Regions from separate parts of the Homo sapiens genome. Here all the other regions are reported to be linked to region 1. The links are microRNA targets in miRTarBase. Many come from high-throughput screens and were not tested one by one. Region 1 holds a microRNA gene; each other region holds the end of a gene's coding sequence.
Evidence for each region. Region 1 holds the annotated microRNA hsa-miR-4469 (GCUCCCUCUAGGGUCGCUCGGA, at 2,297-2,318, opposite strand). A microRNA usually pairs through its seed, bases 2 to 8, with sites in the 3' UTR of a target mRNA and lowers its output. Matches are read on the target gene's strand: a 7mer-m8 pairs with bases 2 to 8, a 7mer-A1 pairs with bases 2 to 7 and ends in A, and an 8mer does both.

Region 2: miRTarBase lists F11R as a target of hsa-miR-4469. Seed matches in the 3' UTR shown: 7mer-m8 at 3,716-3,722.
Region 3: the mRNA of EIF2B5 is a reported target of hsa-miR-4469. The part of its 3' UTR that is shown has no 7-base or 8-base seed match.
Region 4: the mRNA of MCU is a reported target of hsa-miR-4469. Seed matches in the 3' UTR shown: 7mer-m8 at 2,282-2,288.
Region 5: the mRNA of SURF6 is a reported target of hsa-miR-4469. Seed matches in the 3' UTR shown: 8mer at 3,428-3,435, 7mer-m8 at 3,053-3,059, 7mer-m8 at 3,049-3,055 and 8mer at 663-670.
Region 6: the mRNA of BHLHE40 is a reported target of hsa-miR-4469. Seed matches in the 3' UTR shown: 7mer-m8 at 974-980, 7mer-m8 at 978-984 and 7mer-A1 at 1,603-1,609.

Annotation. Positions count from the first base shown.
Region 1 is chr8:42,893,907-42,898,009 of GRCh38, forward strand. MIR4469 (microRNA 4469) reads right to left here and starts at 2,369; the gene lies at 2,291-2,369. It overlaps RNF170 (ring finger protein 170), which reads right to left and starts at 2,699. Exons shown (of 7, transcript NM_030954.4): 1 at 2,578-2,699. It overlaps HOOK3 (hook microtubule tethering protein 3), which reads left to right and starts at 3,072. Exons shown (of 22, transcript NM_032410.4): 1 at 3,072-3,282. The coding sequence starts at 3,226. RefSeq lists an enhancer at 1,816-2,377 and silencers at 2,284-2,495, 2,291-2,650, 2,831-3,620, 3,631-3,690.
Region 2 is chr1:160,995,361-160,999,463 of GRCh38, reverse strand. F11R (F11 receptor) reads left to right here. Exons shown (of 10, transcript NM_016946.6): 8 at 56-68; 9 at 373-421; 10 at 558-4,103. The coding sequence ends at 593. Among named protein-coding and RNA genes, the nearest start is that of F11R, 24 kb to the left of the region's middle.
Region 3 is chr3:184,144,457-184,148,559 of GRCh38, forward strand. EIF2B5 (eukaryotic translation initiation factor 2B subunit epsilon) reads left to right here. Exons shown (of 16, transcript NM_003907.3): 15 at 141-251; 16 at 428-855. The coding sequence ends at 487. Among named protein-coding and RNA genes, the nearest start is that of DVL3, 8.9 kb to the right of the region's middle. RefSeq lists a silencer at 886-935.
Region 4 is chr10:72,885,279-72,889,278 of GRCh38, forward strand. It overlaps MCU (mitochondrial calcium uniporter), which reads left to right. Exons shown (of 8, transcript NM_138357.3): 8 at 467-2,416. The coding sequence ends at 544. Among named protein-coding and RNA genes, the nearest start is that of OIT3, 6.5 kb to the right of the region's middle. RefSeq lists an enhancer at 1,733-2,027.
Region 5 is chr9:133,328,196-133,332,298 of GRCh38, forward strand. SURF6 (surfeit 6) reads right to left here. Exons shown (of 5, transcript NM_006753.6): 5 at 581-4,103. The coding sequence ends at 3,674. Among named protein-coding and RNA genes, the nearest start is that of SURF6, 5.9 kb to the right of the region's middle.
Region 6 is chr3:4,983,446-4,987,548 of GRCh38, forward strand. It overlaps BHLHE40 (basic helix-loop-helix family member e40), which reads left to right. Exons shown (of 5, transcript NM_003670.3): 5 at 1-1,878. The coding sequence ends at 247. Among named protein-coding and RNA genes, the nearest start is that of BHLHE40-AS1, 5.5 kb to the left of the region's middle. RefSeq lists enhancers at 1-424, 285-334, 515-694, 1,125-1,184, 1,195-1,254 and 2 more.

The sequences.
Region 1 (4,103 bases):
TCCAACTAACCGGAGTAACCAGACAGCTAAGACAAGTTCAACTCACCTCTCCTCAGGCATTTCCAAAGCTTTCAGGGAAGGAAAAAAAATAAAACACACAGAGAAAATAGAAAAATAGGAAATTCCGGGACTTCCTGGAACAAAGGAGAGAATCTCAGTGTCTTTTTACCCCAAGGCTTACGTAGAAACTCAGCAGCCACATGGCTTCTGCAATTACTCACATCCAAAAAGTTTTTACTAATTTCTTTCATCAAAGGTAACTGGAATTACAAAATGAAACCTCCAGAACAACGTAACATCATGCACAAAAGCACTGTGGATATGCAGCCAAGCTTGAAAAAGGAGACTTTAGGTCCATTGTGTCAAAGCCTTGAAAACCGGGGCCACTGGAGGAAGGGTGCTCAGGACGGCACAACCACAGTCGCTCCAGTAGGGCCAGCATCTTATCTGCCCATCTAAAGACAAGCTGCATGTGAGTCAGGAGTAAGTCAATGTGACATATACTCACTGACTTCATTCACTTGCCTACAAGATTATACGTCACTTAAAAGTGCTAGAGATTCGACAGAAATAACCTGATAAGGAATGTAGGAACTCTAGTTTGACAAATATCCAGAGGCACCAACACAGGAACCAAACACAGGCGAGACACACATGTGTAATTTTTTTTTTCTTTTGAGACAGATTCTCGTTCTGTCGTCAGGATGGAGTGCAGTGGCGCGATCTCGGCTCACTGCAACCTCAGCCTCCCGCGTTCAAGCGATTCTCCTGCCTCAGCCTCCCGAGTAGCTGGGACTACAGGAGCCCGCCACCACGCCCGGCTAATTTTTGTATTTTTAGTAGAGACGGGGTTTCACCATGTTGGCCAGGATCTCTTGACATCGTGATCCGCTCGCCTCGGCCTCCCAAAGTGCTGGGATTACAGGCGCGAGACACCGCGCCTGGCCACGTATGTGTAATTTCTAAAGGTTTCTCTGCCCTTGGTGTAGGGAAGAATGTTTGAAAAAAAGACCATTGAGAATACTTCAGGTAAGTTTTTTTTTTTTTACACTTACAAAATGCTAAATGATCAGGGGTCAACTATCAAGTGGTACTCTGTAAGGCAACCTTAAAAACTCACTGCTGACCCAGGCTCGGTGGCTCACACTTTTGATCCCAGCACTTTTGGGAGGCTAAGGCGGGCGGATCACTTGAGCCCAGGAATTTGAGACCAGCCTGGGCAACATAGCGAGACCCCCTCTCTACAAAAAATAAGAAAATTAGCTGAGCATCGTGGCCTGCACCTGTGGTTCCAGCTACTTGGGAGGCTGAGGTAGGAGGATCACTTGAGCCCAGGAGGCAGAGGTTGCAGTGAACCAAGATTGCGCCACTGCACTCCAGAACGAGACCCTTTCTCAAAAACCACCATCAACAACAACAAAAAACCCCACTCAATGCTGTCTTGGCAGTTTTCAGTGCTCAATGAGAAAACCTACTCTTAATGGAAAAAAAGTGGGGGAAAGGGGTTCCAGGAACTACAAAGCAAAGTGTGTCTTGGGAAGTTAGCTTTGTTGCACTCCAAATAAAAATTTGGCATTGGGTGGTAGTTATGCATACTCTACGCATCGACAATTCTCTAAGGACTCCAAAGTGCATGTCCTGGAAATTCCAACATATTTGCACTACGTTCCAGGTACACTAGAATGTTTATAGCCATGTTCTGAGTGGCCTCAGTCTGAACAAAATGCCCAACCAGAGTAGAATGGATTCACTGTTCTATTCACACTGGAATACTAGGCAACAATTAAAATTACCTATACATACACAGTACACCAATTTAATACTGATTGAAAACCACAAAACAACACACTGTGATCCACCCGCAAAAGTTCAAAAACAGGCAAAGGAAAACGACATCGCATGCACACATAGATGGTAAAGCTGTAAGGAAATGATCACACTAGTCAGGCTAGGAGACAATCAGGCTCCGAAAGGAGCACAGGGCATGGGTGAGAAACTCCTGGGGTGCCGGTAATGCCCTTTTCGTTTTTATCTGGGTGTTTTATTAATTCTTCTTTAAACGTGTATGTCGTATGCACTTTTCTGCGTATGCTATATCTGTTAAAAATTTATCGGCAGCCCAGCAGACAGATTCGTGCCTCTAAAGAGGTGGAAGCTCCAGAACGATCCGCCTCGCCATTAAGCGAAGGCAACTCCGAACGCTGAGAAACGCAGGCCCGGGGTCGGCCGGTGTCCTTACGGATTGGCGAGCGGGCGCACACCCCTCCTGCATTAAGGAGAGTTCTCAGGGTCACGCTCCGAGCGACCCTAGAGGGAGCGGCGGTGTCCTCGCCGCCGCCAAACCCACCTAGAGCCGCTCTCCGCGTCGGCCCCTCCACCGTCGCCGGCGACTCCGGACAGCCGCGGGGCGATTCTGGGGCTTCCAGACGAGGGAGGGGCCCGGGGGGAAGGAGGCGGCGACTCCCGCCGCCCCGCAGAGCCTCGGCGGCCAGAGCTACCCCAAGAAGGCCAGACCCCGCCGTCCGCGGCTCCGCGGGCCCCGATAGGGTGGGCGTGGCCGCCGCGCGCCGGACGTACCTCTCCACCGCGAAGGAACTACCTCGCCAGTTCCCGGCGACAGAGGACAGATTATTTCCAGGACCGCTCCCGCCACCCCTCCCGGGCAACCCACTAGACGTCCCCTTTCTAATTTGGAGTGCGGGTGCGGGCGCACGCGCACTGCCGAGCTTCCGCGAGGGCGCGACCGGACGGCGGAGGAGGACCCGTCGCCGCAGCCTCCAGGGCGGAGCGCGTGCTCGCCTCGACACGCAGCGAACTGGTGGCGGGGGCGCGCCCGGCGGCAGCGGCGGCGGCGGCGGCGGCGGCGGCGGCGCGGCGGCGCGGGTCGGCCGGGGCGCGAGCGTGCGCAGTGGCTCCTCGGCCTCGGCTCCAGCCAGGGCGGCGGCGCTGGGGAGGAGCGGTGTGGGCGGCCGGGGGCGGGGACGCGGGGCGGCGGGCGTGTCCGAAGTCGCGCGCGGCTGGCGCGCGGTCCCGAGTGAAAGGAGAAGGAGGGGCGCTGGGGGTGACGGTGCGGAGCCGCTGCCAGCGCTGGGCGAGAGTCGGCGGCCGGATCCGAGGAGCAGGCGGGCCTGAGGCCGAGTCAGCTGCGCGGGCCCCCGGATCCCCCGACAGAGCGGCGGCGGTGTCTGGCCAGGCGGTAGGCGCTGCCTGGCCGCGGCGGGGAAGATGTTCAGCGTAGAGTCGCTGGAGCGGGCGGAGCTGTGCGAGAGCCTCCTCACTTGGGTACGTGGGGGCCGCGGGCCGGCGGGAAGACCCCCTCCCCCCGCCACCTACCGGGACCCTCCACGCGCGGCCCGTGGGGCGAGCGCTGCGGGCGACGGTGCCGTCACATCCGGGGCCTGGGGCGGGCGGGGCGAGGAGGCTCGGCCCAGGGTCCGAGAGAGACTTGCCGGGCCTGAGGCGTCGCTGTTCCGGGCGGACCCCGGCCGGGGCTGGGCTGGGAACGCGGCGGGCGACTCTGGGATCCGTGCGGCTGCTCGCAGCTGGGGCTGCGCTGCGCTCTGGGGGTGGCCGAGCCTGACTGCCCCGCGTCCAGGACCCGCCGCCGCTCCTCGCCTTTGTTGCCGCGTTCGCGGAGGACGGGCCCGGCTCCGGCCCGGGAACTGAAAGGACCTGTGAGGGAGCGTGGGGAGAATGCGGGAGGCGCCCGGGGACCCCGTTTCGGATGCAAGGCACCGCTGGCGGTGGGAGTGCGCGAGGGGCGGACGCCTGTCAGAGGCGTCGGGCAGACGTTTAAAGGAGTCTGGAGGTGTCTGGGCGTCAACAATGGAACTCGAAGGCCTTGGGGGACAGAGTCGTGGGATTCTGATTTTGAATTCTTAAACGGTTTTAGATTCCTCATACTTTGAAGTAAATACATGTTCACCTCTCACGTCAGCTGCCGCGCCTTCCTGAAGCCGGGTCTTCAGGACGCGGCAGGGGAACCGACGCCCGGGTTCCAGTCGTTCTCGCCGCGGCGCGGCCGGGGAGGGGGAGGGATGCGCAGAGCCCGGGCGGACCCCGCGCTGCCTTCGGGAGCCTCCGTTTCACTCATTGCTGAGAAT
Region 2 (4,103 bases), not on the chromosome of region 1:
AGCCATGCTGTCTTCTGTCCTGCTGACACTCATGATCCCATTTCTTCTCTTTCAGGAACAAAGAAAGGGTGAGTGAGGTGCTGTCCTGGGGTTCTCCAAGTTTGAGAGCATGGATGCATGTGGTTTGAAGCTGAAGTGGGCCTAGGGGAATGGGTTGAAGGCAGAAGCAACCAGTTTGGAGGGAAGGCATTTGGATATCCAGCCCTTTCTCTGTGGCCTTGGCCCTGGGTCTGTCCTGTTACCCCACCCATACCTGTCTGCTGCGCACTCTGTGCTTCTGTAGCATTCTCGCTTCTGGCCTTTAAAGTTGGCAAGGGGAGGTTAATAAGCACCTAGGTGGCTGAGTGTCTCTGTCTTCTGGCTTGTTCACAGGACTTCGAGTAAGAAGGTGATTTACAGCCAGCCTAGTGCCCGAAGTGAAGTGAGTATGCCTCCCCTGGGCAGGGGTGGGCCACCTGGGGCTGGAGTGAGGAGATTTCTAGCCCATGTTTATGTGTTTTGGGGATTATCAGCTAAAGAAGACTATTGAGAGTTGACTGGATGTTTTATTTCTGCAGGGAGAATTCAAACAGACCTCGTCATTCCTGGTGTGAGCCTGGTCGGCTCACCGCCTATCATCTGCATTTGCCTTACTCAGGTGCTACCGGACTCTGGCCCCTGATGTCTGTAGTTTCACAGGATGCCTTATTTGTCTTCTACACCCCACAGGGCCCCCTACTTCTTCGGATGTGTTTTTAATAATGTCAGCTATGTGCCCCATCCTCCTTCATGCCCTCCCTCCCTTTCCTACCACTGCTGAGTGGCCTGGAACTTGTTTAAAGTGTTTATTCCCCATTTCTTTGAGGGATCAGGAAGGAATCCTGGGTATGCCATTGACTTCCCTTCTAAGTAGACAGCAAAAATGGCGGGGGTCGCAGGAATCTGCACTCAACTGCCCACCTGGCTGGCAGGGATCTTTGAATAGGTATCTTGAGCTTGGTTCTGGGCTCTTTCCTTGTGTACTGACGACCAGGGCCAGCTGTTCTAGAGCGGGAATTAGAGGCTAGAGCGGCTGAAATGGTTGTTTGGTGATGACACTGGGGTCCTTCCATCTCTGGGGCCCACTCTCTTCTGTCTTCCCATGGGAAGTGCCACTGGGATCCCTCTGCCCTGTCCTCCTGAATACAAGCTGACTGACATTGACTGTGTCTGTGGAAAATGGGAGCTCTTGTTGTGGAGAGCATAGTAAATTTTCAGAGAACTTGAAGCCAAAAGGATTTAAAACCGCTGCTCTAAAGAAAAGAAAACTGGAGGCTGGGCGCAGTGGCTCACGCCTATAATCCCAGAGGCTGAGGCAGGCGGATCACCTGAGGTCAGGAGTTCAAGATCAGCCTGACCAACATGGAGAAACCCTACTAAAAATACAAAGTTAGCCAGGCATAGTGGTGCATGCCTGTAATCCCAGCTGCTCAGGAGCCTGGCAACAAGAGCAAAACTCCAGCTCAAAAAAAAAAAGAAAGAAAAGAAAGCTGGAGCTGGTGGCTTAGGCCATCACCCTTCCCTTGGCTGGAACTACTGGACAGACCCTTTTGAGATGTGCCTGTGGTGCTGTGGAGATGTGTGTAGTGGTCTTAGCTCTTTGTTGAGCTTGTGTGTGTGTTGTGTAGTCTTAGCTGTATGCTGAAATTGGGCGTGTGTTGGAGGGCTTCTTAGCTCTTTGGTGAGATTGTATTTCTATGTGTTTGTATCAGCTGAATGTTGCTGGAAATAAAACCTTGGTTTGTCAAGGCTCTTTTTTGTGGGAAGTAAGTAGGGGAAAAGGTCTTTGAGGGTTCCTAGGCTCCTTTGTACAACAGGAAAATGCCTCAAAGCCTTGCTTCCCAGCAACCTGGGGCTGGTTCCCAGTGCCTGGTCCTGCCCCTTCCTGGTTCTTATCTCAAGGCAGAGCTTCTGAATTTCAGGCCTTCATTCCAGAGCCCTCTTGTGGCCAGGCCTTCCTTTGCTGGAGGAAGGTACACAGGGTGAAGCTGATGCTGTACTTGGGGGATCTCCTTGGCCTGTTCCACCAAGTGAGAGAAGGTACTTACTCTTGTACCTCCTGTTCAGCCAGGTGCATTAACAGACCTCCCTACAGCTGTAGGAACTACTGTCCCAGAGCTGAGGCAAGGGGATTTCTCAGGTCATTTGGAGAACAAGTGCTTTAGTAGTAGTTTAAAGTAGTAACTGCTACTGTATTTAGTGGGGTGGAATTCAGAAGAAATTTGAAGACCAGATCATGGGTGGTCTGCATGTGAATGAACAGGAATGAGCCGGACAGCCTGGCTGTCATTGCTTTCTTCCTCCCCATTTGGACCCTTCTCTGCCCTTACATTTTTGTTTCTCCATCTACCACCATCCACCAGTCTATTTATTAACTTAGCAAGAGGACAAGTAAAGGGCCCTCTTGGCTTGATTTTGCTTCTTTCTTTCTGTGGAGGATATACTAAGTGCGACTTTGCCCTATCCTATTTGGAAATCCCTAACAGAATTGAGTTTTCTATTAAGGATCCAAAAAGAAAAACAAAATGCTAATGAAGCCATCAGTCAAGGGTCACATGCCAATAAACAATAAATTTTCCAGAAGAAATGAAATCCAACTAGACAAATAAAGTAGAGCTTATGAAATGGTTCAGTAAAGATGAGTTTGTTGTTTTTTGTTTTGTTTTGTTTTGTTTTTTTAAAGACGGAGTCTCGCTCTGTCACCCAGGCTGGAGTGCAGTGGTATGATCTTGGCTCACTGTAACCTCCGCCTCCCGGGTTCAAGCCATTCTCCTGCCTCAGTCTCCTGAGTAGCTGGGATTACGGGTGCGTGCCACCATGCCTGGCTAATTTTTGTGTTTTTAGTAGAGACAGGGTTTCACCATGTTGGTCGGGCTGGTCTCAAACTCCTGACCTCTTGATCCGCCTGCCTTGGCCTCCCAAAGTGATGGGATTACAGATGTGAGCCACCGTGCCTAGCCAAGGATGAGATTTTTAAAGTATGTTTCAGTTCTGTGTCATGGTTGGAAGACAGAGTAGGAAGGATATGGAAAAGGTCATGGGGAAGCAGAGGTGATTCATGGCTCTGTGAATTTGAGGTGAATGGTTCCTTATTGTCTAGGCCACTTGTGAAGAATATGAGTCAGTTATTGCCAGCCTTGGAATTTACTTCTCTAGCTTACAATGGACCTTTTGAACTGGAAAACACCTTGTCTGCATTCACTTTAAAATGTCAAAACTAATTTTTATAATAAATGTTTATTTTCACATTGAGTTTGTTTAAATCCTGAAGTTCTTACCTTAAGAGAATTGGGACTCCTAGAGTGATTGGACATTCAAAATATTCCTGATAGTCTTGTTAATTAAGAGATTAGGATATCTTTCCATTACCTTGATAATTACGTTTTAATTTAGCTTTTTTCATTGGCCTGTGTTTAAATGCAAATAACCCCACAATGGACATTTCCTATGTTAAAGTGACATTTAGGGGATAAAAAATGAGAGCAGTTCCATGGATTTTGGTGTTTCCCCTGAGACATGAACTCAGCATAATCTGGGATAAAATGATTGAGTGTTAAGGATGTGTTTGTTGTTCCTGTCGTTTTTTTATTTTCTTCAAAGTATACAACATGGTTTGATATGCACATACATTTGTGTAATGATTGCCATGGTCAATTAACACATCACCATTTTTGTGTGTGTGTGTGTGTGTGTGTGTGAGGGAGTCTTGCTCCGTTGCCAGGCTGGAGTGCAATGGTACAACCTTGGCTCACTGCAACCTCCACCTCCTGGGTTCAAGCAATTCTCTTGCCTCAGCCTCCTAAGTAGCTGGGACTATAGGCGTGTGCCACCATGCCCAGCTAATTTTTGTATTTTTAGTAGAGACGGGGTTTCACCATGTTGGCCAGGATGATCTCGATCCCTTGACCTCATGATCCGCCCACCTCGGCCTCCCAAAGTGCTGGGATTACAGGCGTGAGTCACTGCACCCGGCCACATCACCTCCCATGTTCTATCTTACGTATTCAGAACTTGTTCATCTTGTAACTGAAAGCGTGTACCCTTTGACCAACACTGTTTTTCCTGTCTTAACAGGATCTACAGAT
Region 3 (4,103 bases), not on the chromosome of region 1:
GCCCCAGGAGCAGAGCGAACAGCTCACTCTTGTCCGTTTTGGAGGAGGCTACTCAGTGCATAGAGGGATCTGAGGGCCTGGTAGAGTATCCTGCTGGACTTTCCAAGGCCCCTGAGGTCCCCTTTATTGGCCTTTTGCAGGTACTGATGGCTTTCTACCAGCTGGAGATCCTGGCTGAGGAAACAATTCTGAGCTGGTTCAGCCAAAGAGATACAACTGACAAGGGCCAGCAGTTGCGCAAGAATCAACAGGTGCGTCAGGCTGTCCTCCTCTCGCCAAGATGGTTATCTCATTCCCAGGTCCTGGCCCCTAGACTCTAGGGTGGTTGGTTTCTGGGGCTCTGGTTGTTAGAGCTGTTTATCTGCCGAGGGGAGCAGGAGAGTTATGTGCACCTCCCCCAGCCGATCTCTCCTCTGCTTCTTTACAGCTGCAGAGGTTCATCCAGTGGCTAAAAGAGGCAGAAGAGGAGTCATCTGAAGATGACTGAAGTCACACTGCCTGCTCCTTTGGGTGTGATTGAGTGCCCTCCTGGCTCCTGGGCTGGGACAAGTGAGGAACTAGCTGCAGAGGGATGAGTGACCACCATCCAGGCTGAGACTGAAAGGAGCAGAGGCTGGAACTACAGTATTCTTTCCCCTGCTAGCAACCATGTGCCTCCCATCCTGACTGTGGAGTTGGGATGTGGAAGTGGGGCTGGAACAAAGCTTCTGCCTAGGGAGGAGCTAAGCAGGCCCGGCAGTTGGAGGAAGGCCAGAGGAACAGCTTTGTGCTCCGGCTTTCCCTCAGGGAACAGCAGAGAGCAGTTGGCTCTTTCTGCTGCTTGTATATGTTAATATTAAAAGAGAGAGTGGTGTATTTGGTTTGTCTCCATCCCTGACTAATCAGCCAGTGAAGTATGTGACCAGAATCACATGATAGCCTTTCCTTAACACCTGGGGGAGAGGGAGGACGGGTGTGCCAGCCACTAGGTGGTACTGTGGTACCTTGCTAATTAACCTTTCCCATGGCTCATGGGTAGTGGAGGGCGGAGGTTCTTTTCCAGCCTCTGTGGACCAACTTGTGATCCTGGGGTGGTGTGCCTAAGCCCGTTTCCATAGAGTCCCATTTTGAACACTTTTCTGCCAGAGGATTATGTTGCCAACCATATGTAAAGCCCATTAGACATGCCAGTTCCTTTCACATGCCTTTTCCAGTTGATCTGGTACTCGTTCTGTCAGGAAGCTGGGCCACGCTTCATCAGAAATAAGGAAATCAGCTCAAGGTCACATGACTCTTGAGGGGTAAAGCTAAGGACTTGACCCTCAGAATCCAGAACTCTGTCCTTCAGCGTATTGTGTTTCAGTGAAGGGAAAATTGGCCCCACAGACAAATATAACCCAGAGCCAGTAATGGAGGTCCCAAGAACACAGGAAGGCCATGTGAAGGGTGCTTTCCCTTGAGAGTGTTTACTATGTGACAGGCAAGCAGTTTTCACATATTGTTTCATTTAATCCTCACATGAGCCCCATGAAGTCTTATCCCCATTTTCAGATAAGGTGCCTGAAGCTCACAGAGCTTCCCTAGCTAGTAACTGACAGAGCCAGGTGTGATATTGGACTCTTGACCTGGAGCTTGTTACTTTGCTGTATTGCTTTAACCTTAACCAAAAGAGACATGCCTTTCTGTCTTTTCTTTTTGAGTTCCTTGTCTTCATATAGAGTGAGTCAACAATTCTGGCCGCGTGCAGTGGCTCACGCCTGTAATCCCAGCACCTTGGGAGGCTGAGGCAGGCGGATCACCTGAGGCGAAGAGTTCGAGACCAACATAGCGAAACCCCATCTCTACAAAAATACAAAAATTAGCTGGGCATTGTGGCAGGCGCCTGAAATCCCAGCTACTCAGGAGGCTGAAGCAGGGAGAATTGCTTGAACCTGGGAGGCGGAGGTTGCAGTGAGCCGAGATTGTGCCACTGCACTCCAGCCTTGGTGATGGAGCGAGACCCTGCCTCAAAACAATATAATAATAATAATTTCCTTTAGTGGTACTTAAACGGTGGCTAATGTGACTGTTGTAACAAGTGATGCTCTACCCCCCCATCCCTACCGTCCCAGATGTTACAGAACAAATGGTTGCCTTTATTCATTTTAGTTGGATAGAAAGACATAAACTGGCCTAGGCGCGGTGGCTTACGCCTGTAATCCCAGCACTTTGGGAGGCTGAGGTGGGCAGATCAGCTGAGGTCAGGAGTCTGAGACAAGCCTGGCCAACATGGTGAAACCCTGTCTCTACTAAAAATACAAAAATTAGCCAGGCGTGGTGGTGGGTGCCTGTAATCTCAGCCGCTCGGGAGGCTGAGGCAGGAGAATCGCTTGAACCCAAGAGACGGAGGTTGCAGTGAGCTGAGATCACACTATTGCATTCCAGCCTGGGCGACAAGTGAAACTCTGTCTCAAAAAAAAGGATATAAACTGAGGATGGGCTGACTGAAGTCAGCTTGTGGGTATGAAGGCATCACTGGAAAAGGAAAAGACAGGCTGGCCAGGGTTTGGCTTAATTTTCTAGTAAATCTCAGTTTCTGTCTTGTTAGGTATAGGATCTAGTGTCTAGTATGAAGATTCTGGCATTATGGCATGGACCTAGTACAGTGAGACATCCCTGTATCTGTACTGAATGTATAGCAGAAATCAGAAGTAGTCTACAGAGCTTTTTCAGAAAGAGAGATTACTTCCAGTTAGGGTGATTAGGGAAGGCTTTACAGAAATTTGATGCTGGAGTGGCCTAAAAAATAGAAGAGGCTGGAAGCATGCATTAAAAGCAAAACAAAAACTTTCCAGTTAAATACGGAAAATTAAACACATGAGCCTTTATGCCCCCTCCAAAAATTCTATTGAAATACCAGTAAAGGAATTATTTTAAAAAGGCACGTGCTGGCTGGGCTCAGTGGCTCACACCTGTAATCCCAGCACTTTGGGAGGCCGAGGCAGGTGAATCACCTGAGGTCAGGAGTTCAAGACCACCCTGGCCAACATAGTGGACCCCCGTCTCTATTAAAAATACAAAAAAGCCAGGCGTGGTAGCTTATGCCTGTAATCCCAGCACTTTGGGAGGTCAAGGTGGGTGGATCCCCTGAGGTCAGGAGTTCGAGACCAGCCTGGCCAACATGATGAAACCCCCATCTCTACTAAAAATAGAAAAATTAGCTGGGCCTGGTGGCAGGTGCCTGTAATCCCAGCTACTCAGGAGGCTGAGGAAGGAGAATCGCTTGAATCTGGGAGGTGGAGGTTGCAGTGAGCCGAGATCGCGCCATTGCACTCCAGCCTGGGGGACAAGAGCGAGACTTCATCTCAAAAAAAAAACCAAAAAACACAAAAGTTTAGCCGGGCATGGTGGGGGGCACCTGTAATCCCAGCTACTCAGGAGGCTGAGGAAGGAGAATTGCTTGAACCCAGGAGGCGGAGGTTGCAGTGAGCCGAGATCATGCCATTGCACTCCAACCTGGGTGACAAGAGCGAAACTCTCAAAAAATATAATAATAAAGCCACATGACCCAGTGATAAGGAAAATAGGAGGTGACAATGAATGAGAGATGCCAACATTTTGGAAGATGAAAAACAGAACAGTCAACAGTCACTTAACAGAGTAGAATGAGTTGGGTTCTACCTGCTGAGGGAGTTAATGGCAAGAAGTAAGCCAATGTGCCCTTCTGAACCCATAAAAGGTTCAGCACCTCAGAGGAGGGTATGGACTGACGCTGAGAACTAGGGGTGGGGTGGAAGGAGATTACACGATGATCTGTATAAGAAAAAGCCCCACCAAGTCCCAACCTCATCTGATCCAGCCAAGTGATTACCCCTACTCCCTTGCATAAAATGGGAGATTCCGTCTCTGGAGAAATGGTAGGGAGGAAGTTAGCAAAGATAGACTTAAGGTTTCCTAAGCCCAAAGGTCACAAGTTTCCAGACCAACTGTCCATGAGTGCCCAGCATAATGAATGAAAAAGCCCATGAAATTTCAGAATGTCCAGGGGAACTTAAACTATCAGAGCCTCTGCATTCAGCAGCAGGCATAGTGGGGATAGAGGTGAGGTATTAGATTGAAAATGAAGAATTAAGTGAAAATATATG
Region 4 (4,000 bases), not on the chromosome of region 1:
AGTTTTGAAAGTACTACAGTTGACTACACACGCTGTTCCAAAATTCACTGGCTAAGTAAAAACTTAAACAGGTACTGGATAAATAACTAAAATCTTGAGTAGCATAAAGTTCTGGCTCTTAGCCCTTGTGAAAGGGCTTCTCACTGGAGAAACACCATCAAGATGTATGTCTCAGATGCTCCTTACATTCTTAGCCTCTGAGTCCTACCCTGTTGATAGCACTGATTTTTCTGGAGGCTTTGTTGAGGGCTGAAACTGCCAAGGATGGCTTCCATTTTGGATTCACCCTTTGTTGTCCTATGCCGTGAGTTAAAATGCTTTGTCTTTCAAGGCACTCTTATTTTGAGAGTTATTGAGATGATCTCTCTGACTTATAGTAATGGAGAACAGTTTCCTTTTCTTGGTAGACAGTAATATCATTGAAAGCTTCACTAGCCAGTTTTCTCACCTTTTGTTTCTATTTTAGGCAGAAATGGACCTTAAGAGACTGAGAGACCCATTACAAGTACATCTGCCTCTCCGACAAATTGGTGAAAAAGATTGATCTGCAAAAAGCCTCTGAATCCTGGCAGAAGGAACACCTGTTTGCCTTTTTAATTAAAGCATTGCAGGTGGAAGCTGGGAGCCATGTGGGGGGTAGAGCGTTTTTACCTTTAATTATAAAACAAAAACAGAAAGGATCTGAGGGAAGAAGGGAATGTTAAAACCTGAGGATCAGGCATTGTGGAATATAAGCTCAAAGGGCTTAGTGAATATTGTCTTAACCAAGTATCTCAGTTTCTGGATGAAAATGATGCAGTTATATAGTTGAGAGATTCATAAAGAGAAAACAATGCTGGGGGTGTTCGTTTCTTGCATCTTCTTTGCAGAGTCAGCAAAAGAGTAACACACCAGCACCCCACTCGACTCTATTTGTTTTTAATTTAACTGTCCCTATTTTTGACATAGGAGTAAATAAATATACTAGAAAAGCAAATTCTCATGATATGCTAAAATATCATTAGCATTTATTTTAAATTGGACCCAGTCTCTGCAGAGTTACCAGGAATCTTTCCTTCCAGCATCCCTTTACTGACCACCTACCTGTACCTCTTGGTTACACTCATTTTTTCCATTTGATAATTGGAACCAACTTATAACTGTTTAATAATTGACACTTTAGATTATCTCTTAATACCTTCTTAAATGTCTATATATCCCAGTGCTCTGGATCAGTGTCTAAAAATCACTGGCAACACTGCATGAGGTTGTTGGTTTTGTTTTGTTTTATTAATTAGTCTTTCACAGGAGGAATAATTGCCCTCCTTTATATACTTATCTATTGATAATCCCCTCTCCCTCCAGAACACAAATCAGAGGGAAAGGGGGTGTTCAGCTGTACTACCAAATCAGGAAGATGTAAGGTTTACAAATTGGCTAAGAATCATGGCTCTGTAGCCATTTCAACCAGAATAATTTTATTGCTAATCTGCTTTGTGTGACAGCATTCCAGGCCAGCCAGATGGGACTGCCTTGTCTGGAGGCTTTGTTCATCTCGAAGGACACACACTTCCACACTGTTTGTGAGCCCTCCCACCTCCACAACTTCAGTTGTAAATCAAGTGTGTGGATCTCAAAGGGTGCAATTTATCTTTATATAGGAATACATTTCTAGGGCTTCCTTCAAGCCCACTCTCTTCACCCTATTTTTTCTTATCTTAAATTGAGAGAAAGAGAATTAATCTTATACTTTGTCAAAACATTTTCTACCATATTTCCAGATGACATCTGCGCTTGAAGAGTCAAAGGAATCTGTGTCTAATATCCTGTTTTTAACTGCTGTAGGGGCAGGATGGAAAGGATGATGGGGGCTGCCACACCACTGATTGGCCTTTTCTTTCACGTGATTCATCCTTCCTCATTGTGGCAAGGAGTTTCTTTCTCTTTTTCTTCCTCCTTTGGGATCATTGTGTATGAAAAGAAAAACTTTAAATGACAAACCCAGACTCCAGGTGCCTTGCAAAGGTTGAAGGCCAGCCAGGATTGCTGCTGCTGCTGCTACTCCTGCCAACACCCCTTTCATTGGCATGACGGAATGAAAGGATGCATGTCTCCACTTCCTGACCCTCCGCCCACTTCCTTCTCCCTCCACCACCCCCAGTCGTCAGCTCCTTCCCTCATTTATTTTTGTTAAGTTGTGTGAATTATTTTTAACCCATTTATCCTGTTTGTGCATAGGGTTTTTAAGAAGAAACAGCACAGTGCAACGAGCAAATCTTTTTGGGGTGTGTGGGAAGCAAGGGAGGGAGGACATGGAGAAAAGTTCTTTAAACAAATAGCAAACTATTGAACATGTGTAAAATCCTGTATCATTTATGAAATATGTATAAAAAGCAATGTACCTTCTGGAACAATAAATACTTATTCAATTTTTGAACGATAGCATCTCATTCTTTAAAACAAAACCAGAAAAACTACATTTCCTGTGATTCTAGGTGGGAAGTTTTTTACTTCTAAAATTCATTTTTATAAAAATATCATTATCAAATTAAGCTCTTCCTTAAGCCTATATTTCAAAAATAGGCATTTCACTAGTTCTTCCTGAACCTAAGATAATCAGTATTTTCCTAATTTTCCAGAGCCACCAAGAGGTTGAGTGACCTGTACAACCGTTAATAAAGTCAGCAGCAGCAGTCTCAGTGAGCCTGAATCCTCATCTCCTGATTGACAGGAAAAATCTCTGTGGTATCAGATCACCTGGATTGCCCAGTGCTATGGGCTCCTGGACTCAAGAAAATTGTTCAAAGACGCACCAAAATTAAGTATTCATTATTTTCAGAGTTTGTATCAAATTTACAGTGGTAGCCAAACAGGAAATATCACATGCTGCCAAGATCACCACAGGCATATTTAAAAACTTGTATTAAATATCTGGTTGCTGGAGTGCAATATGAGGTGCTGTTCAAAGAGCCTCTGTAGCTGTGGTCCTGCCTTCTGGCAGCTTACAGCAGCCTAACGCAGACAACCCTTACCCCCATGTAAAGTGTAAGAAGGTAAGGTTTGACAGAGCAGAAGCATCGCCATCTTGGACAAGCACTGCCATTTTAAGTTCTCCCAATTAAAAACCGCCTAAATCCAGCCCAGAAAACATCAGCCTAATGGCTAATGTCAGCATGACCATAAACCATAAATGACACCTTAGACCAGAAACTTTCCAACCCTGAGATAAAGCCCCCTCTGACCAGAGACATCCCAGCCCCGAGATAACCTCCCCTCCGAACAGACATTCCACCCTTGAAATAAAATTCTCCTCCACCCAGAAACACTCCGAGCATGCGATAAGCTCTCCCTTGCTAAACCCTTAAGTACCCTCAGTCTGTAAGACAGAATGCTCCTGATTGAAATCAGCCAGAATACTCCCCAAAATAAACCTGTCTTTGACTATTGAGCCACTTCTTGTGTTTCCTCCTTCTTTCTTCAACTCTTACAAGGTTGAAAATATTAAGTCGTTTTTTGCATTCAACAAATGGTATCTACATACTTCACACATTCTGTTAAGCTTTGCAGGGTTGTGTTTGTTTTGGTTAGGTTTTTTAAGGAAAATGAAAACATGATTCCTGCCTTTAAGGAGCTTACAATTTGAAGTTTAAAGCAGGAGTATCCAATCTTTTGGCTTCCCTGCACCATACTGGAAGAAGAAGAATTGTCTTGGGCCACACATAAAATACACCAACACTAATGATAGCTGATGAGCTAAAACAAAACACAAAAAACCCTCAATGTTTTAAGAAAGTTTACGAATTTGTGTTGAGCTGCACACGGCCTGCAAACCATGGGTAGGACAAGCTTAAAGTATAGTGAACAACAAAGGAAACCTTATTAAAAAATGGGCAAAGGAGTTGGACAGTTCTCCAAGAAAATATATAAATGGCCAATAAACATGAAAAGATGCTCAACATCACTAATAAGGAAAGGTAAAACTACCATGAAATACCACTTCACACCCATCAGAATGGCTATT
Region 5 (4,103 bases), not on the chromosome of region 1:
CTCAATGACTGCATCCACTCAGCCAGTATGCCAGTCCCCACTGAGCCTCACTCTCAACCTCCCTGGCTGGCATAGGTTCCTTGTGCAGACATCCAGTGGCAGTAAAATATTGCTGGGTTCTCAGCTTCCCCCACCTGCAGCCCTCACTGGCCCACCCAGTTGTCCTGTCTCTGCTCAGGACGAGACCCCCCCCCGCCTCTTCAGTCTCTGTAGCCAGGTGATGGCAGTGGCCTTTTCCAGACCCTCACTGGCCCCTTAGTTCACTATGATGACTTCACCTCTTGGGAACCCATGGGGATGTCTTTCCCTCCAATACATCTACATTTGCCTGACCCAGAATGTAGTTTCAAGATGGGTCCATGCCTGGCTCCAAATCCCCTTATCAGAGTAAGGAAATACCTTAATTCCTAGTTTGCTAAAAACTCGTTATAAATGGCTGTCGCGTCATTTACTGTGTTCCTGTTCTGCAACCATTGAGATGGTCACGTGGGTTTTGCTCCTTTAATCTATTGATATGAATTACACTCTTGATTCTCTGGCATTGAAACTGCTTTGCAATTCTGAATTAAATCCAGTGTGGCACTTTGCTAAACTTGGTTTATTATTGTCTAAAATCTTGACATTGGTATTTGTAGGGACCAGCCCCACAGGGTCCGTGGGTCTCTCCCTCCCTGTGTGCAGCAATGAGAGAGTGTAGAAATACACACACAAGACAAAGAGATAAAAGAAAAGGCAGCTGGGCCCGGGAGACCACTACTACCAATGCTCGGAGACCGGTAGTGGCCCCGAATGTCTGGCTGCATTGTTATTTATTGGATACAAAGCAAAAGGGGCAGGGTAAAGAGTGTGAGTCATCTCCAATGATAGGTAAGGTCACGTGGATCACGTGTCCACTGGACAGGGTGCCCTTCCCTGCCTGGCAGCCGAGGCAGAGAGAGAGAGGAGACAGAGAGAAAGACAGCTTATGCCATTACTTCTGCATATCAGAGACTTTTAGTACTTTCACTAATTTACTACTGCTATCTAGAAGGCAGAGCCAGGTGTACAGGATGGAACATGAAGGCGGACTAGGAGCGTGACCACTGAAGCACAGCATCACAGGGAGACGGTTAGGCCTCCAGATAACTGCGGGCAGGCCTGCCGGATGTCAGGCCCTCCACAAGAGGTGGAAGAGCAGAGTCTTCTCTAAACTCCTCCAGGGAAAGGGACACTCCCTTTCCCGGTCTGCTAAGTAGCGGGTGTTGTTCCTTGATACTTTTTGCTACTGCTAGACCATGGTCCACCTGGCAACGGGCGTCTTCCCAGACGCTGGCGTCACCGCTAGACCAAGGAGCCCTCTGGTGGCCCTGTCCGGGCATAACAGAAGGCTCGCACTCTTGTCTTCTGGTCACACCTATGTCCCCTCAGCTCCTATCTCTGTATGGCCTGGTTTTTCCTAGGCTATGATTATAGAGCGAGGATTATTATAATATTGGAATAAAAGGTAATTGCTACAAACTAATGATTAATGATATTCATATGTAATCATATCTAAGATCTATATCTGCTGTAACTATTCTTGTTTTATATTTTATTATACTGGAACAGCTCGTGTCCTCTGTCTCTTGCCTCGGCGCCTGGGTGGCTTGCCGCCCACAGGTATTTGGTAACTTCCCTTTCTCTTACCTAGTTTTGGTATCAAAGCTAAGTTCACGAATGAAGTGTTCTCTCAATTGATTCTGTTAGAATTTGTCTACGTCTGGAATTACCTGTTCTCTATATCGTGGAACTTCCCTGTAAAACCGTCTAGGGGAACATTCTTAACTACTGACTCAATTTCATCAGTGATTACAACTCAGGCTTTCTATTACTTTTAGTCAGTTTTGGAGATTTTTCTTCCATTTACTTTGAGTTGTTCCAACTTAAGCTGCATGCTTATTTTTCTTTAGCTTTAAAAATACAGACATACAGCGTATGTGTGTATAAATGGCACTATTTATCTGTAGATGCACATACATTTAGGGGCTATGTTTTTTTGTGCTGCTTTAGCTCTGTTCCACAAATCTTAAATTTTTTCTTTTTGAGACAGTCTTGCTCTGTCACCCAGGCTGGAGTGCAGCGGCTCGATCTTGGCTCACTGCAGCCTCTACCTCCTGGGTTCAAGTGATTCTCCCGCCTCAGCCTCCCAAGCAGCTGGGACTACAGGTTTGCACCACCACACCCAGCTAATTTTTTATTTTTAATAGAGATGGGGTTTTATCATGTTGTCCAGGCTAGCCTTGAACTCCTGATCTCAAGTGATCCACCCGCCTCCCAAAGAGCTGGGATTGACAGCATGAGCCACCATGCCAGGCCCTGTTCCACAAATTTTAATACGTAGCATTTTCATTATCCTTTAGTCCCAAATATTTCTAATAGCCATTCGGAATTCTTTAACTCATAGGTAATTTATAAGTGTGTTTTAAAAATTCCAAATATGAAATGCCACTGCACTCCAGCCTGAGTGACAGAGCAAGACTCTATCTAAAAAACAAAAAAAAATAGCTCAAATTTTTTTTAATGACATTGGGATACGGTCAGATAACGACACTGATTCCTTGAAATATCTTAAGACTTCTTTTCTGGACAAAGTAGGTGGTCAGTTTCCATCCATGTTCCATATATGCATGGAAAGAGTATGTATTCTTTTCAGATACTGTTGTGTCTGTCTCTCAGCTCAAGCTCATGCTCACCTCACATCCTATCTTTCACAGGGCTTTTTCATCAGTTGCCTCTGTCTGGTAACAGTCACACCAGCTCCTGTTCAGTTACAGTCTTTGTCTCATAACCGGAGAGTTTCATCAAAAGAATTTTATTTACAGCTTTATCATCCATATGCCACTAAAATTCACCTGTTTTCTTTCAACCTGCACTCATTTTGATTGCCTGGAACTCTGGATTTAATTCTTCCATCCCACTTTGTATCTTGCATTCACTTCACTCTCTCTCCAGCTTTTATTCTTTCTTTCTCTTTCCCTAGGTCCAATGCACTTGACCCAACTCACATGCGTGGACTCCGGGAAGGTACTGCTCCCTCCCTCCAAATTCTGAGCAGTAAAATGCCGCCCCGGGGCACTGGGGAACAGAAAGGAATGAGACCCCAACAGGCAGAAGCCAAGAGAGCGGGGAGGAGCCATGGCGTTCTGCCCCAGGATGCACCACGCCTGGACGTGCTCCCCCGACTCCCAGTGCCAGGTGCCCATATGCCACACCTCAGGGTTGTCCTCTGTTCGGGTGAGCTGCGGACTAACGTGGCCCGGCAGCAGAGGCCACCGTCTTCTGTCCCGTGGCTCCTGCGAACACAGGCAGTGGGGAACAGGCAGTGACTGCCCACCCCCACCGTTCCTCCTCCCTGACCCTGCAAACCTCGGGGAAGCTTTCAGGCCCGGGAAAGCAGACCAGGCCCCAGTCTCCCTCACCCTTTCCCTGGGTCTGAAGGTCCCGGATCCTGCGTTCAAGGATGACGCTGAAACTCTCTCTTTCTCACATGGGATCTGTGATCTGGGCCCTCACAACTCAGCAGAGCACCACTGTGTCCCCCTCACATGGAGAGGCCGAGGTCTGTGGAGATCCTGGGACAGAGCCAGCGTCAAGGACTCAGAGGGTGTCCTGGAGTCTCCTAGGACGGAAGACGGCGGCCCCAGGTGGGAAAGACTCAGACCAGGCCTGCGCGCTCCAGGTCCTGCGGCAGGATGCGGCCCTTCTTGCGGGCTCTGAGCAGGCGGCGCTCGGCGCGGGCCGCCTTCTTCCTGCGCAGGTTCTGCCGCCGCCGGTCCTGGCGCTGCTGCATCTTCTCCACCACGCCGGCCGTGCGCTTCTCCCACCGGCGCTGCCGCTGCGCCCTGCGCTTCTCCTTGCGCTTCAGGGCCTCCTGCAGCAGGCGTTCGTCGTCACGGATCTTCACGCCCTCCGCCTTGTAGAGGAGGTTGGTCCACTTCATCTTCGCCTCCAGCTCCTGCGCCTTCCCCTCATCCTGGCCGCGCAGCTCGTCCAGCCGGCTCTGCCGTGCCTGCAGGCGCTCCAGCAGCTGCCGGTAGTTCCTCCCGGTCAGCGGCGTGAGGTTCCCCTTCACCCTCTGCCTCTTC
Region 6 (4,103 bases), not on the chromosome of region 1:
AGCGACTGCCTACCTGCCCATGCTGGAGAAGTGCTGGTATCCCACCTCAGTGCCAGTGCTATACCCAGGCCTCAACGCCTCTGCCGCAGCCCTCTCTAGCTTCATGAACCCAGACAAGATCTCGGCTCCCTTGCTCATGCCCCAGAGACTCCCTTCTCCCTTGCCAGCTCATCCGTCCGTCGACTCTTCTGTCTTGCTCCAAGCTCTGAAGCCAATCCCCCCTTTAAACTTAGAAACCAAAGACTAAACTCTCTAGGGGATCCTGCTGCTTTGCTTTCCTTCCTCGCTACTTCCTAAAAAGCAACAAAAAAGTTTTTGTGAATGCTGCAAGATTGTTGCATTGTGTATACTGAGATAATCTGAGGCATGGAGAGCAGATTCAGGGTGTGTGTGTGTGTGTGTGTGTGTGTATGTGCGTGTGCGTGCACATGTGTGCCTGCGTGTTGGTATAGGACTTTAAAGCTCCTTTTGGCATAGGGAAGTCACGAAGGATTGCTTGACATCAGGAGACTTGGGGGGGATTGTAGCAGACGTCTGGGCTTTTCCCCACCCAGAGAATAGCCCCCTTCGATACACATCAGCTGGATTTTCAAAAGCTTCAAAGTCTTGGTCTGTGAGTCACTCTTCAGTTTGGGAGCTGGGTCTGTGGCTTTGATCAGAAGGTACTTTCAAAAGAGGGCTTTCCAGGGCTCAGCTCCCAACCAGCTGTTAGGACCCCACCCTTTTGCCTTTATTGTCGACGTGACTCACCAGACGTCGGGGAGAGAGAGCAGTCAGACCGAGCTTTCTGCTAACATGGGGAGGTAGCAGGCACTGGCATAGCACGGTAGTGGTTTGGGGAGGTTTCCGCAGGTCTGCTCCCCACCCCTGCCTCGGAAGAATAAAGAGAATGTAGTTCCCTACTCAGGCTTTCGTAGTGATTAGCTTACTAAGGAACTGAAAATGGGCCCCTTGTACAAGCTGAGCTGCCCCGGAGGGAGGGAGGAGTTCCCTGGGCTTCTGGCACCTGTTTCTAGGCCTAACCATTAGTACTTACTGTGCAGGGAACCAAACCAAGGTCTGAGAAATGCGGACACCCCGAGCGAGCACCCCAAAGTGCACAAAGCTGAGTAAAAAGCTGCCCCCTTCAAACAGAACTAGACTCAGTTTTCAATTCCATCCTAAAACTCCTTTTAACCAAGCTTAGCTTCTCAAAGGCCTAACCAAGCCTTGGCACCGCCAGATCCTTTCTGTAGGCTAATTCCTCTTGCCCAACGGCATATGGAGTGTCCTTATTGCTAAAAAGGATTCCGTCTCCTTCAAAGAAGTTTTATTTTTGGTCCAGAGTACTTGTTTTCCCGATGTGTCCAGCCAGCTCCGCAGCAGCTTTTCAAAATGCACTATGCCTGATTGCTGATCGTGTTTTAACTTTTTCTTTTCCTGTTTTTATTTTGGTATTAAGTCGTTGCCTTTATTTGTAAAGCTGTTATAAATATATATTATATAAATATATTAAAAAGGAAAATGTTTCAGATGTTTATTTGTATAATTACTTGATTCACACAGTGAGAAAAAATGAATGTATTCCTGTTTTTGAAGAGAAGAATAATTTTTTTTTTCTCTAGGGAGAGGTACAGTGTTTATATTTTGGAGCCTTCCTGAAGGTGTAAAATTGTAAATATTTTTATCTATGAGTAAATGTTAAGTAGTTGTTTTAAAATACTTAATAAAATAATTCTTTTCCTGTGGAAGAGAAAGATGGTCTCCTGAGTTTTTTAAAATAGCTCACTTGGTGTGATATGGCTGACTCCCATGTCCTTCTTTCTTGGCTGAAGCAAACCAGTTAATCTCAGTGTAATTTCATTCAGCTTTTCATGTGCTTTGTATTCAATCAGAATAAGCTTAGTCAACCTGGCAGGTAAATATTGGTTCAATTTTTGTTTAACCCTTGCCAGGGGTTCATGATCATCCTCTACCTCTTTCCAGAGTTAAGTAAAAAGCATATTTTCCCCTGCCTGCTTTCATCGTGGTCCTTGGAACTTGACAGAAAACCAAGGTATGACACCGTGGGCAGCAGTGTCTGGGGAGCCTGCTGGAGGGAGAGGCACATTGAGAAAAGATTTACTGGATTATTATGCAATACTAATTGATGCTAGGATAGCACCTCTTTGCCAAAGCAGTCTAGCTTTTTCAAATCTAGCAAGGTCTAATGGATTTGCCATATCCTGTCTTATTCCTGCTGGAGGCAACATTCCATAATTATTTTCTACATCCTTCCTGGACTTCCTCTCCGGTATGTTTGTGCGTGAATGCATATTGGGTGTTCCTTCGACAAGTGCTCTTATTTAAAAAAAAAAAAAAAAAATTCCATGGGAAAGGTGGGAAATGACCCTGTCGTGTATTTTTGCCTCTCTCCTTTGCCTTGATTTGCAACATTCCTGTGGGATACTCCCTGTCAGAGGTGTCCTGATGTTTCCTGATGGCCAGCGCCTGACTCAACACGCTCCGGCTCCCAAAGCATCCCAGTCTGCCAGGACTCCCTGGTTGTCTGGAGTACAGCAGGGAAGCTGCCCCTAGGGATTTCTTAGCCAGGCAGAGGCTCCACCTGACCATGAAGACTGTTTGCTTCACATGTCACCTTCCCTGTCTCCTGATGGGCCAGCAGGTGAAAGTGAGCATTGTCTGCTTGTGCTGGATGCATATGGAATGCACGTAACTGTCCCCAGGCCACAGGCTGTTGTGCAAGGAGCCGGGACCAGGAGGTGGAAGCCTGGCATCAATAGCTGGTGGTCTATCACCTCCCTCTCCACGCCTGCTTTTGACTAGATAAAATAAGAATTCCGAGCCCTTCTCACAAGTCCCAGAGCAGGCAGATGGCAAATTCTGTAAGCCACTCTTTCTCCCAGCCCAACGCCTGGGCTTCCAGGTCTCATGCCTGTGAAACACCTCAATTGCTCCATGAGTTGCCAGACCTCTCTAGCTAGACTTTTTTGGAAAAAACCCAACAAATCAAACTTACCCTGGTGATATAGCCGGGGGTTGAAAAATCAAGACCAAACTCTTTTTGCATAACCCTCTCTTTTTCCCAGGCCACTGCAGGAGGAGTAGCTTTGGGGAAAGGAGGAAGTGGTTGGAGCAACCTGAACTAAAAAAAAAGATTTGAGGGTTCCACACACAGTCAACCCAGAATCCCGCTATGGGAACCTGCCCCTGTCAAACAGCGCCTCAAGTTGCAGCTGTCCCTCCACTTCATTTTTTGCTTCCAGCTCGCCCTTAACCTCTCTTCTAGCCCAGTTCTAGCGGCATCCAAATGCGCTCAGAGGGAGGTGCGGGGGAGGGGCGCGCACCCCAGCCTAATGCCCACTGCGGACAAAGAGGACTTCTGTTTAAAAAGCGGGGTGTGTGAGTGTCAGGGGGCGAAGCGCTGGCTCCGGGGCCAAGGAGAGGTGGCAGGAGGCAGGGGAGCGGAGGCTGGGCATCTGGCCGCCTTCAGACAGGGCGTGATCCGCCGGGCCTGCCGGGATGGTCTCACCCAGCGCTGACCTGCCCCGCCTGTTGACACAACGTCACGTTTCCGACTGCAGCCCTTTCATGTGCGGCCCGCGGCTAAAAGCGGCTGCCGGTTCCTGGAAGCAGACGTGCCTGGCACCGCGTCAGCAGAAACCTGATCCCCGGGGAAGCTCGGCAAGGCCTTGGGATCGCTCGGCCCCCAGAACTAGGGCCTGGCAGCGGGCACGGGACGCCCCCCCTCCCTCGCGCCCAGCAGGAGGGAATTCGAGCGCTCCCCGTCGGCGGTGGGGAGGGAGGACTGGGTGGGGTAGGGAGCTGGATTTAGGCAGAGCACGGGGACCAGGGCTTAATTGACTAGAAGCTAGAAGCTTCCCACGGGTCATCGCTCACTAATGCACGTCAAACAACCTAGAAGTATCATTATGGGTACTATTACAATTCACATTTTGTAGATAAATAAAAGCAGGCTCAGAGAGGAGAGGTAACTAGCCCGAGGTCACACAGCTTCTGAGGGGGCTAAACCTTTTGTAGGATGGTGGATCTGTTGGTTTGTGGGTCCCTTAATTGGATCCAAGGAGAAGGCTTTCACAGAGCCGAGTTGTTAATGACTATAA